Homo sapiens: one gene and its partners. The protein of the gene in region 2 purifies or fractionates together with the protein of the main gene of each other region. This does not show direct contact. Each region holds a gene or a part of one and is shown on either strand. Other genes may lie near its edges.

Region 1 (2,703 bases), on a different chromosome or scaffold from region 2:
AGCTGTACAATTGGGAGAAATTTTATAATTTTTTATTGGTAAACATATGCTAAATCCGCTTCAGTATTTTATTATGTTTTTTAAAATGTGAGAACTTCTGCACTACAAAATTCCCTTCACAGAGAAGTATAATGTAGTTCCAACCCGTGCTAACTACCTTTTATAAATTCAGTCTAGAAGGTAGTAATTTCTAATATTTAGATGTCTTAGTAGAGCGTATTATCATTTAAAGTGTATTGTTAGCCTTAAGAAAGCAGCTGATAGAAGAACTGAAGTTTCTTACTCACGTGGTTTAAAATGGAGTTCAAAAGATTGCCATTGAGTTCTGATTGCAGGGACTAACAATGTTAATCTGATAAGGACAGCAAAATCATCAGAATCAGTGTTTGTGATTGTGTTTGAATATGTGGTAACATATGAAGGATATGACATGAAGCTTTGTATCTCCTTTGGCCTTAAGCAAGACCTGTGTGCTGTAAGTGCCATTTCTCAGTATTTTCAAGGCTCTAACCCGCCTTCATCCAATGTGTGGCCTACAATAACTAGCATTTGTTGATTTGTCTCTTGTATCAAAATTCCCAAATAAAACTTAAAACCACTGACTCTGTCAGAGAAACTGAAACACTGGGACATTTCATCCTTCAATTCCTCGGTATTGATTTTATGTTGATTGATTTTCAGAATTTCTCTACAGAAACGAAAGGGAAATTTTCTAATCTGCTTTATCCATGTACTTGCATTTCAGACATGGACATGCTATTGTTATTTGGCTCATAACTGTTTCCAAATGTTAGTTATTATGGACCCAATTTATTAACAACATTAGCTGATTTTTACCTATCAGTATTATTTTATTTCTTTTAGTTTATAGATCTGTGCAACATTTTTGTACTGTATGTCTTCAAACCTGGCAGTATTAATACCCTTCTTACTGACATATGTACTTTTAGTTTTAGAAAACTTTTATATTTATGTGTCTTATTTTTATATTTCTTTATTTATTACACAGTGTAGTGTATAATACTGTAGTTTGTATTAATACAATAATATATTTTAGTATGAAAATTTGGAAAGTTGATAAGATTTAAAGTAGAGATGCAATTGGTTCTCCTGCATTGAGATTTGATTTAACAGTGTTATGTTAACATTTATACTTGCCTTGGACTGTAGAACAGAACTTAAATGGGAATGTATTAGTTTTACAACTACAATCAAGTCATTTTACCTTTACCCAGTTTTTAATATAAAACTTAAATTTTGAAATTCACTGTGTGACTAATAGCATGATGCTCTGCAGTTTTATTAAGAAATCAGCCTAACCATACAACTCTCATTTCCTTAGTAAGCCAAATTAGGATTAACTTCTATAAACAGTGTTGGGAACAATGTTTAACATTTTGTGCCAATTTGTTCCTGTATTCATGTATGTAAGTTACAGATCTGACTCTTCATTTTTAAGTTCCTTGTTACATCATGGTCATTTTCTAGTTTTTTACCAGACTCCCATCTCACAATAAAATGCATCAACAAGCCTGAACTGCTGTCATTCTTTTCATCATTATCAGTATTTTCTTTGGAAAACTGTGAAATGGGGTACATTGTCATCCTGCATTTGATTCATCTTGAGCTGAATTTGGGTAACACTAAATGTTTTAGACATTCTCCACTAAATTATGGATTTTCTTGTGGCTAAATGTTTCTGGAGAGGTCAGAGTTGACAAAACCTCTTCACAGGTTGCTCCTTCTTCCTGAAATCCTTAATCCTCCGCATTTCATGCTTCAGGTCATTTCAGGGAAGCCTGGGTTTAGATGCCTTTCTGACTCTCAGCTCCTGCACTTCTGTCATCATACCTCTGATACTATTATTTATATTCCTTCCCCACTAGGAACAGGAACCACATTTGTCATAGTCACTCTCACATTCCTCACTGCCTAACAGGGTGCCTGGCATAAGTTGGGACAACAGATATTTGTTGAATAAAAATATAATTTGCATGTTTATGGAGCTCAGCTATGTTCTCACTTTTTTTGCTTCTAATTCCAGAATATATGTTAAATGATCTAATAATTTGATTATTTTCTTATAAGTCTTATTAAACACTAGTCATAATAGACACAATAAATTATGCCTTCTTTTTCTATTGCCTTACTATTTTGATTTTTTGAAAGTGTATTTCTAGGTGTCTTCCTGGTGCTTAACCTCATGGTATATGGCACAGGTATTGCTGGCTTGTGGACATGACTACCTCCAATAGGAGCGATAGGACTGATCCTAGTCAGCTCTCCTTTGTAGAATTCACTTCCCTTTCTAGGACCCCATATTCGTAGGTGCTCGTTACCATGTTGCCTGATTTCCCCTGTCACTGAGAGCAGCTACCAATAAACAGACTGACTGAAAAGGATTAGGAACTAAGAATAAGATACTCTTCTTAGGAGGTATCCACAATGTAATATAAAGTTCAATGAGGGCAGTGCTTGATATGTATGGATAAATGACTAATAAAGGAATTTAGGCATTACCAGAACTTTTCAGAAAGAAAACGTACATGGACCTTTCCCAGTATTCCCTCATATGACATACAACAAAAATAATAGCAGGGCCATATATTATTTATTCATGCCATGCACAGGTATTTCACTACTATCAAAATGTTCACAAAAGCCTCATAAAAAATACAAATAAAGACAATGTGCCCATGAACA
Region 2 (3,658 bases):
GAAATTGGGTGAGGAGCGGCTGAGACGGAGGGTGACTGCCTTTGTTTTCTTCTAAATATATTATGTATACATTTTTTTAAGAGACAGGATCTTGCTTTGTCACCTAGGCCAGAGCGCCGTGGTGCAGTCTTGGCTCACTGCAGCCTCCACCTCCTGGGCTCAGACTGTCCTCCCACCTCAGCCTTCCGAGTAGCTGAGACCACAGGTGCACGCTACCATAGCTGGCTAATTTTTTTTCCCATTTTTTTAGAGATGGGGTTTCATTATATTGCCCAGACTGGTCTTGAACTCCTGGGCTCAAGCGATCTGCCCACCTCAGCCTCCCAAAGTGCTGGGATTACAGTTGTGAGCCATTGCACCTGGCTTCTTCTAAATACTTGGCTTTTTAAATTGTGTACAGTTTCTTTAATTAAAAATAAAAATTAATTGATTACCAACATCTGAGCATTATAGAAAAATAAAAACACCAGAAGAGGGTGGGGCGCGGTAGCTCACACCTGTTACCCTAGTACTTTGGGAGGCCGAGGCGGGTGGATCACGAGGTCAGGAGATTGAGACCATCCTGGCTAACACGGTGAAACCCTGTCTCTACTAAAAATACACAAAATTAGCCGGGCGTGGTGGTGGGCACCTGTAGTCCCAGCTACTCAGGAGGCTGAGGAAGGAGAATGGCATGAACCCGGGAGGCGGAGCTTGCAGTGAGCCGAGATCGCGCCACTGCACTCCAGCCTGGGCGACAGAGCGAGACTCTGTCTCGAAAAAAAAAAGACTGCATGTATTTCCTTCTCGGTTACGACAGTTAGAACACATCCCTTTCTCCTGTGGACGGGGACCTTGACCTGAACCTGCGTGTATTTCCTTCTTGGTTACGACAGAACACATCCCTTTCTCCTGTAGATGGGGACCTTGACCTGAACGGGCAGTTGTTGGTCGCACAACCGCGTAGAAATGCCCAAACCGTCCACGAGGACGTCAGAGCAGCGGCTGGGAAGCCAGACAAGATGGAGGAGACGCTGACATGCATCATCTGCCAGGACCTGCTGCACGACTGCGTGAGGTGCGACCGTGTTCACCCTTGGCTCACGGAACATGGCACTGCAGGTTCTTCGTCCCGTGTGGGGCAGGGCTGGGCATGAGACAAGCCTGCAGGTCCTGTTTGGCCTGGCATCTGCTGAGGTTACTCTGTCACCCAGATAAGTGGGTGGAGTGGGTGGAGTGGGTGGAGCTTTCTCAGCCCACTGCAACCTCTCCCTCCCAGGATTGAGCGGTTCTCTGACCTCAGCCTTCTGAGTTGCTGGGACTACAGGTGCACACCACTATGCCTGGCTGACTTTTTTTTTTTTTTTAATGTTCTAAATATTTTTTATTCCTTTTTTTTTTTTTTTTTTTTTTTTTTTTTAGATGGAGTCTCGCTCTGTCACCAGGCTGGAGTGCAGTGGCACAGTCTTGGCTCACTACAACCTCAGCCTCCCGGGTTCAGACGATTCTCCTACCTCAGCTTCCTGAGCAGCTGGGACTGCAGGCGTGTGCCACCATGCCCGGCTAATTTTTTTGTATTTTTTAGTAGAGACAGGGTTTCACCATGTTGGCCAGGCTAGTCTTGAACTCCTGACTTCAGGTGATCTGCCCACGTTTGCCTCCTAAAGTGCTGGGATTATAGGCGTGAGCCACTACTCCCAGCCACCCTGCTGATTTTTGTGTTTTTTGTAGAGACGGTTTCGCCATGTAGCCCGGGGTGGTTTTTTGTTTTTGTTTTTGTTTTTTGGAGTTAGAGTCTCGCTCTGTCACCCAGGCTGGAGTGTAGTGGTGTGATCTTGGCTCACTGCAACCTCCACCTCCCAGGTTCAAGTGATTCTCCTGCCTCAGCCTCCCAAGTAGCTGGGACTACAGGCATGCGTCACCACATCTGGCTAATTTTTTTGTATTTTTAGTAGAGACGGGAGTTTCACCATATTAGCCAGGCTGGTCTCGAACTCCTGCACTCAGGTAATCTGCCCACCTTGGCCTCCCAAAGTGTTGGGATTACAGACGTGAGCCACCCCGCATGGCTACCACTTTCATTCTACTCGTGGCACCAACAAGGAGGAAACCTGGAACCCAGAGCCGGAGGCTGTAGACCCCACAAGTTTTGAGTGTGTGGGTCGTGTGTGACCCCGTGAACTCTGCAAACAGATGAAAGGAACTCTGCACATTTTAAATGCTCCTTATCTGGGAAGGTGTATTTCGCATAGAATGAACGTAGGAGCCGCTGAGGAAGGGCCTCCTTGCTTTTCCGCGGGAACTCAAGAGTGACAACCTTCCAACTTCTGGGCCAGAAACACTTGCTGTCTCTGTTGTTTGTGTTCCTGAAGTCATAATCTACTCGCCTCTGTCTTTCCTGAAAACACAGAGGCCGTGTGGCCTCTGATTTCTTTTCATTAACCAAGACTGACTTAAAGGGTTTTTAGGTTGAACGATGGCTGGGCCCCTGTAGGCCCTTCCGTGGTGGGGCTGCTGCGGACCTTGGTCGAGGGTCGCGGTTGCATCTGTGGGACTGTCTGGACACTGTTCCTCTTGCACTTTCAGTTTGCAGCCCTGCATGCACACGTTCTGCGCGGCTTGCTACTCGGGCTGGATGGAGCGCTCGTCCCTGTGTCCTACCTGCCGCTGTCCCGTGGAGCGGATCTGTAAAAACCACATCCTCAACAACCTCGTGGAAGCATACCTCATCCAGCATCCAGGCAAGTGAGGGCATCCACACCAGCACCCGGGCACGTGAGGGCGGTCCCTCCACCACCACCCAGGCACGTGAGGGCATCCACCCAGCAGCACCCGGGCACGTGAGGGCTGTCCCTCCACCAGCACCCGGGCACGTGAGGGTGGTCCCTCCACCAGCACCCGGGCACGTGAGGGCATCCACACCAGCACCCAGGCACGTGAGGGCGGTCCCTCCACCACCACCTGGGCACGTGAGGGCATCCACCCAGCAGCACCCGGGCACGTGAGGGCTGTCCCTCCACCAGCACCCGGGCACGTGAGGGCTGTCCCTCCACCAGCACCCGGGCACGTGAGGGTGGTCCCTCCACCAGCACCCGGGCACGTGAGGGTGGTCCCTCCACCAGCACCCAGGCACGTGAGGGCATCCACACCAGCACCCGGGCACGTGAGGGTGGTCCCTCCACCAGCACCTGGGCAAGCGAGGGTGGTCCCTCCACCAGCACCCAGACAAGTGAGGGCGGTCCCTCCACCAGCACCCAGGCAAGTGAGGGCATCCACACACCAGCACCCAGGCATGTGAGGGCGGTCCCTCCACCAGCACCCGGGCACGTGAGGGCATCCACACCAGCACCTGGGCACGTGAGGGCAGTCCCTCCACCAGCACCCGGGCACGTGAGGGCGGTCCGCCCAGACCCCTCCTTCCGCAGCACTGCGCACGCGAGCTCCCAGCAGTGTGAGCTGTGTCTGCCTGCCATGTCTCACTGCCGGTGAATGGCGCTGTGTCCTTTCAATTCTAGACAAGAGTCGCAGTGAAGAAGATGTGCAAAGTATGGATGCCAGAAATAAAATCACTCAAGACATGCTGCAGCCCAAAGTCAGGCGGTCTTTTTCTGATGAAGAAGGGAGTTCAGAGGACCTGCTGGAGCTGTCAGACGTTGACAGTGAGTCCTCAGACATTAGG
Region 3 (3,658 bases), on a different chromosome or scaffold from region 2:
TTAACCTTTCCCTCTGCTTTGCTTCTTACCTTTCATTTTCCCAGCCAGCTCATATATTTTTCTTGGCTCAGCGGATCGCTTTTCCAGAGCTGTAAATAAACCACCTCTGCCCCAGTGGCCAGAGTCATCTGTTTGAAGAAAGAGAAAATTTTCATCTATAGGAGGTGAAGTCCAGTGCACAATTTAGAAAAACAAAGGCACACAAAAGGGACTTGTGGAAGAATGATTTTTCAAAGGGAAGAAACAAAATATCTTATCTCCTAGGAATATCACAGGTTGGACTTCCCAAATATGTTTATGTTTTCTGGAAGATATAGCTGGGGCCATGATAACAGGAAAGCATCTCAAAAATTAGGGTTCTCAATGAGCAAAATCTCTGTGGTGCATCTGTGATTCCTGGCAAATGACTGCGGAAGGACGGAGAGTAGATGGAACATTACAGAGTGAGTAGAAGCAATAGGTTATGCAACAGCACATAGGCAAGGTTATGAAACAGTACACAGGAAAGGTTAAGTGACTTATTCAAGCTGGTACTAACAAAGCTGCTTAGTATCTTAGCATTTATAGTCATTCATTCACACTACAAACGTTTGGTAGCATGTATTACACGTAAGGCATCGTTCTAGGCACCACAGTCACAGCAGCGAACAAGAAAAAACCCCTGCTGCCATAAGTGTATTTTTTAATGCAAAGCAACAGTCAAATAAACAAATACATAGGTAATGTGTCAGGTGGGACAGGTGTGATAAAGGAAAATATGGGAGAAGGGACAGAGAATAACAGGGGGGATGGGGCCTGTTTTATATGAGGTAATCACAGAAGACCTCTCTGAGAAACAGACATTTGAACAACACTTGATGTGGTTATTTGGGAAGAAAGGGTTTTAGGCAGATGAAGTAAAAAGTACAAAGGTCAAGCAAGGGAACAAGCTTGAAGTTTTGCTTTTTCTCAAAGGATTTGTTTGTCTTATCAATGTTGCTTCATTTCACCCTCTTAAAAACCTTGTGCAGAGGATAAGACAGATATTGTCCCATCATATGGATAAGGAAGTTGAAGTTGAAAGGTTGGGTAACTAAACCAGGTAAATGAGAAAGCCAAGAGTGAAATGATTCTGGAATATCTCCTGACTCTAAAATTCACACTTTTTTGACTGTACAATACTACACTGGGACCACCACCCCAGTCCCAGTGCCCCATCCTCCCCAGTTCTTGGCACCATAAGGACTGAGGCCCCCATCCCCAGCCCATACCACTTCTCGTACCTACGCAGTGCACAATGAGAGCATCCTCGGCCCCAGCCTGAGGGTGGGTGACATCACCACTAACGTACTTGAGGGAAGTAGCATCTGGGTCTTGGTAATCCAGCTCAGCAGAGCTCTCTTCCCCATTCTCAAGGTCCTCTGGCTCGCTCTCCTCAGAGGGCAGGCAGAAGGACTGGTAATTGTTGGATTCCCACCAGGCCATCCTTTAGCAGGCCAGAGACAAAAGGAAATTAACCCAGACAATCACAATTTCCCTTGGAGCACATTTTATACTGCTGTTCACAAACAATATCTGCCAAGTAGAAATGCAATTAGAAACTCACCCTGATTGAAGTTTTCTACTTATTTGTAAACAAGTCTTACTGATTAGGCTAACTGCTTCCTGACTACAATTCAATAATGAGCACTCCCTGAATGTTCCTGTTTTTAAGACTAAAAGAGATTGTTGAAGTAAATTATTCTTTGTCAGATAGCTACAATAAAATCTTAAAATCTTCTGGTTTTGGCCGGGCATGGTAGCTCACGCCTGTAATCCCAGCACTTTGGAGGTCAAGGCAGAAAGACAGCTTGGGCCTAGGATCTTGAGACCAGCCTAGGCAACACCGTGAAACTCTGTCTCTACAAATAATAAAAAAAATTAGCCAGGCATGGTGGCACACACCTGTGTTCCCAGCTACTAGGGAGGTTATAGTGGGTAGATCACTGAGCATGGGAAGTTGAGGCTGAATGAGCTGTGCCCATACCACTGTACTCCAGCCTGGGTAACAGAGCAAGAACCCATCTCAAAAGAAAAAAGAAAACAATTCTGGTTTTAATGGAATGCATCTTCCCTGCCTTATACACTGAGACTTTTCACTTACCTAGAGGAAATGTTTTCAGAAAGTATTCTGTTACCAATAGGAACCAACTTAAAATGAATTTTCTGTATTTTTAAAGTGATATTCAACTGTGGTCTCACTATACAATAGTGACTCCTTCAACTGTGGCCGCCAGCTTGGTTAACGCAGACATACTTTTTCTTATGTTCAGCCTCTTCCTTTTGCCTCTTCTTCTCCTCTATGAGTCTCCTTCTCTTGGCAGCTGCTTCTTGTCTTTTCTTCTGTCTGTCCTCCAGCTCTTCTGGACTCAGAACCCGCTTCCTTTTGGTAGATCCCTCCACAAGGCCTGGGATGAGAACCTAGAGGAAGAACAAGATCCATCACCAGGGTCAAGAAGATTCCTCCCCGAATTTCATTATCCCTAACACACACTGTACGGAAGCAACATGCTTAATATTCCACAGAACACTGCATCTCCACACACCCTGCATGGTGGGAACTGGAGGCAAAGCACTTGGAGGCACTGTTCATACTACACACTTCACAGGCACAGTGACCAGGATACCATGCTGTAAACTCAGCCCTAGCATTGGCATGGTTGAAACAGTCATTTTGATTCATTTCATTAGGAATAAGTTACTTCAGAAAAGTAACTTTTTTCCTTGACTAAAAGCATACCCTGCAGGATGCCACTTCAGCCATTTTTAATGGAACTCTTTCTGCAATGTATTATGTAACTTTTTTAAGATTGTATTTCAACATCATGATTATCTTAGTGATAGCTAGCATTTAATGACCACGTTAACTGCCAAACACTGTGAACACTACATATATCATTTATGATTGCCATCCTCTCTTCTTGTCATAGGGTCATCATTACCAACAGCAGGATATGGTATTTTGGTATAATATAGGAATGCCTTTAGGGGTGACTTGGATGGACAAGGCTGCTTTCACCTACATGACATCGTACAATATATTCTCTCCTTTATGTTTTTCATGCTGACTTTTTTACATAGTTTTTATACTAGGGTATAGTTAATTATAATAACATTTCAGCAAACACATACTTATTTCTTGACAAATCATCCTAAGAGAACAAAACGATGCCAGCATCATTTTTTTGTTTGTTTTAGAATGAGAGTTTGGAAGAACAACTTTTAAATAAATTAACAGTTCTTACACTGCCTTTATTTCGGAGTGATCGGCCCTCTTGACTAGCTTTCTCCAAAAGGGTTTTCTGAAGGTTTACCAGTTGTTCAAATGATTTTCTGTCTTCCTTACTGGGCTCTTTAGAATAATCTTTACCTTCAAATAAGTACATATGATTTTCTAACAACATAAAACACAAAGAGAGAAATGTTAGATACCAAGGAAAAATAGATTAATGCTATTCAAATCAATAACAAAAGTGGACAGGAGAACAGCCTATATTCTAAATGGGCTAAGTCCATATGAAGGAAGGTATTTCATTTCCCATCCCACTGACACTGAAGAATGTGGGTTCTACATGGGGATCCCATGTGTTTACTTTTCCAAGGGGAGAGCATGGCTTAAAACCCTTTGGTTCATCCCTAG

The links.
Region 1: the proteins of CHFR (region 2) and ZEB1 purify together in Homo sapiens (affinity purification with western blotting; one study listed by BioGRID). This does not show direct contact.
Region 3: the proteins of CHFR (region 2) and CHD1L purify together in Homo sapiens (affinity purification with mass spectrometry; one study listed by BioGRID). This does not show direct contact.

The regions. Positions count from the first base shown.
Region 1 is NC_000010.11:31,527,666-31,530,368, forward strand, and holds the end of ZEB1 (zinc finger E-box-binding homeobox 1), read left to right. Parts: 3' UTR 1-2,139; downstream 2,140-2,703. UniProt on the Homo sapiens protein: Acts as a transcriptional repressor. Inhibits interleukin-2 (IL-2) gene expression. Enhances or represses the promoter activity of the ATP1A1 gene depending on the quantity of cDNA and on the cell type.
Region 2 is NC_000012.12:132,856,467-132,860,124, reverse strand, and holds part of CHFR (E3 ubiquitin-protein ligase CHFR), read left to right. Parts: intron 1-897; coding exon 898-1,057; intron 1,058-2,565; coding exon 2,566-2,720; intron 2,721-3,494; coding exon 3,495-3,657; intron 3,658-3,658. UniProt on the Homo sapiens protein: E3 ubiquitin-protein ligase that functions in the antephase checkpoint by actively delaying passage into mitosis in response to microtubule poisons.
Region 3 is NC_000001.11:147,284,105-147,287,762, reverse strand, and holds part of CHD1L (chromodomain-helicase-DNA-binding protein 1-like), read right to left. Parts: intron 3,413-3,658; coding exon 3,264-3,412; intron 2,440-3,263; coding exon 2,276-2,439; intron 1,466-2,275; coding exon 1,263-1,465; intron 129-1,262; coding exon 30-128; intron 1-29. UniProt on the Homo sapiens protein: ATP-dependent chromatin remodeler that mediates chromatin-remodeling following DNA damage.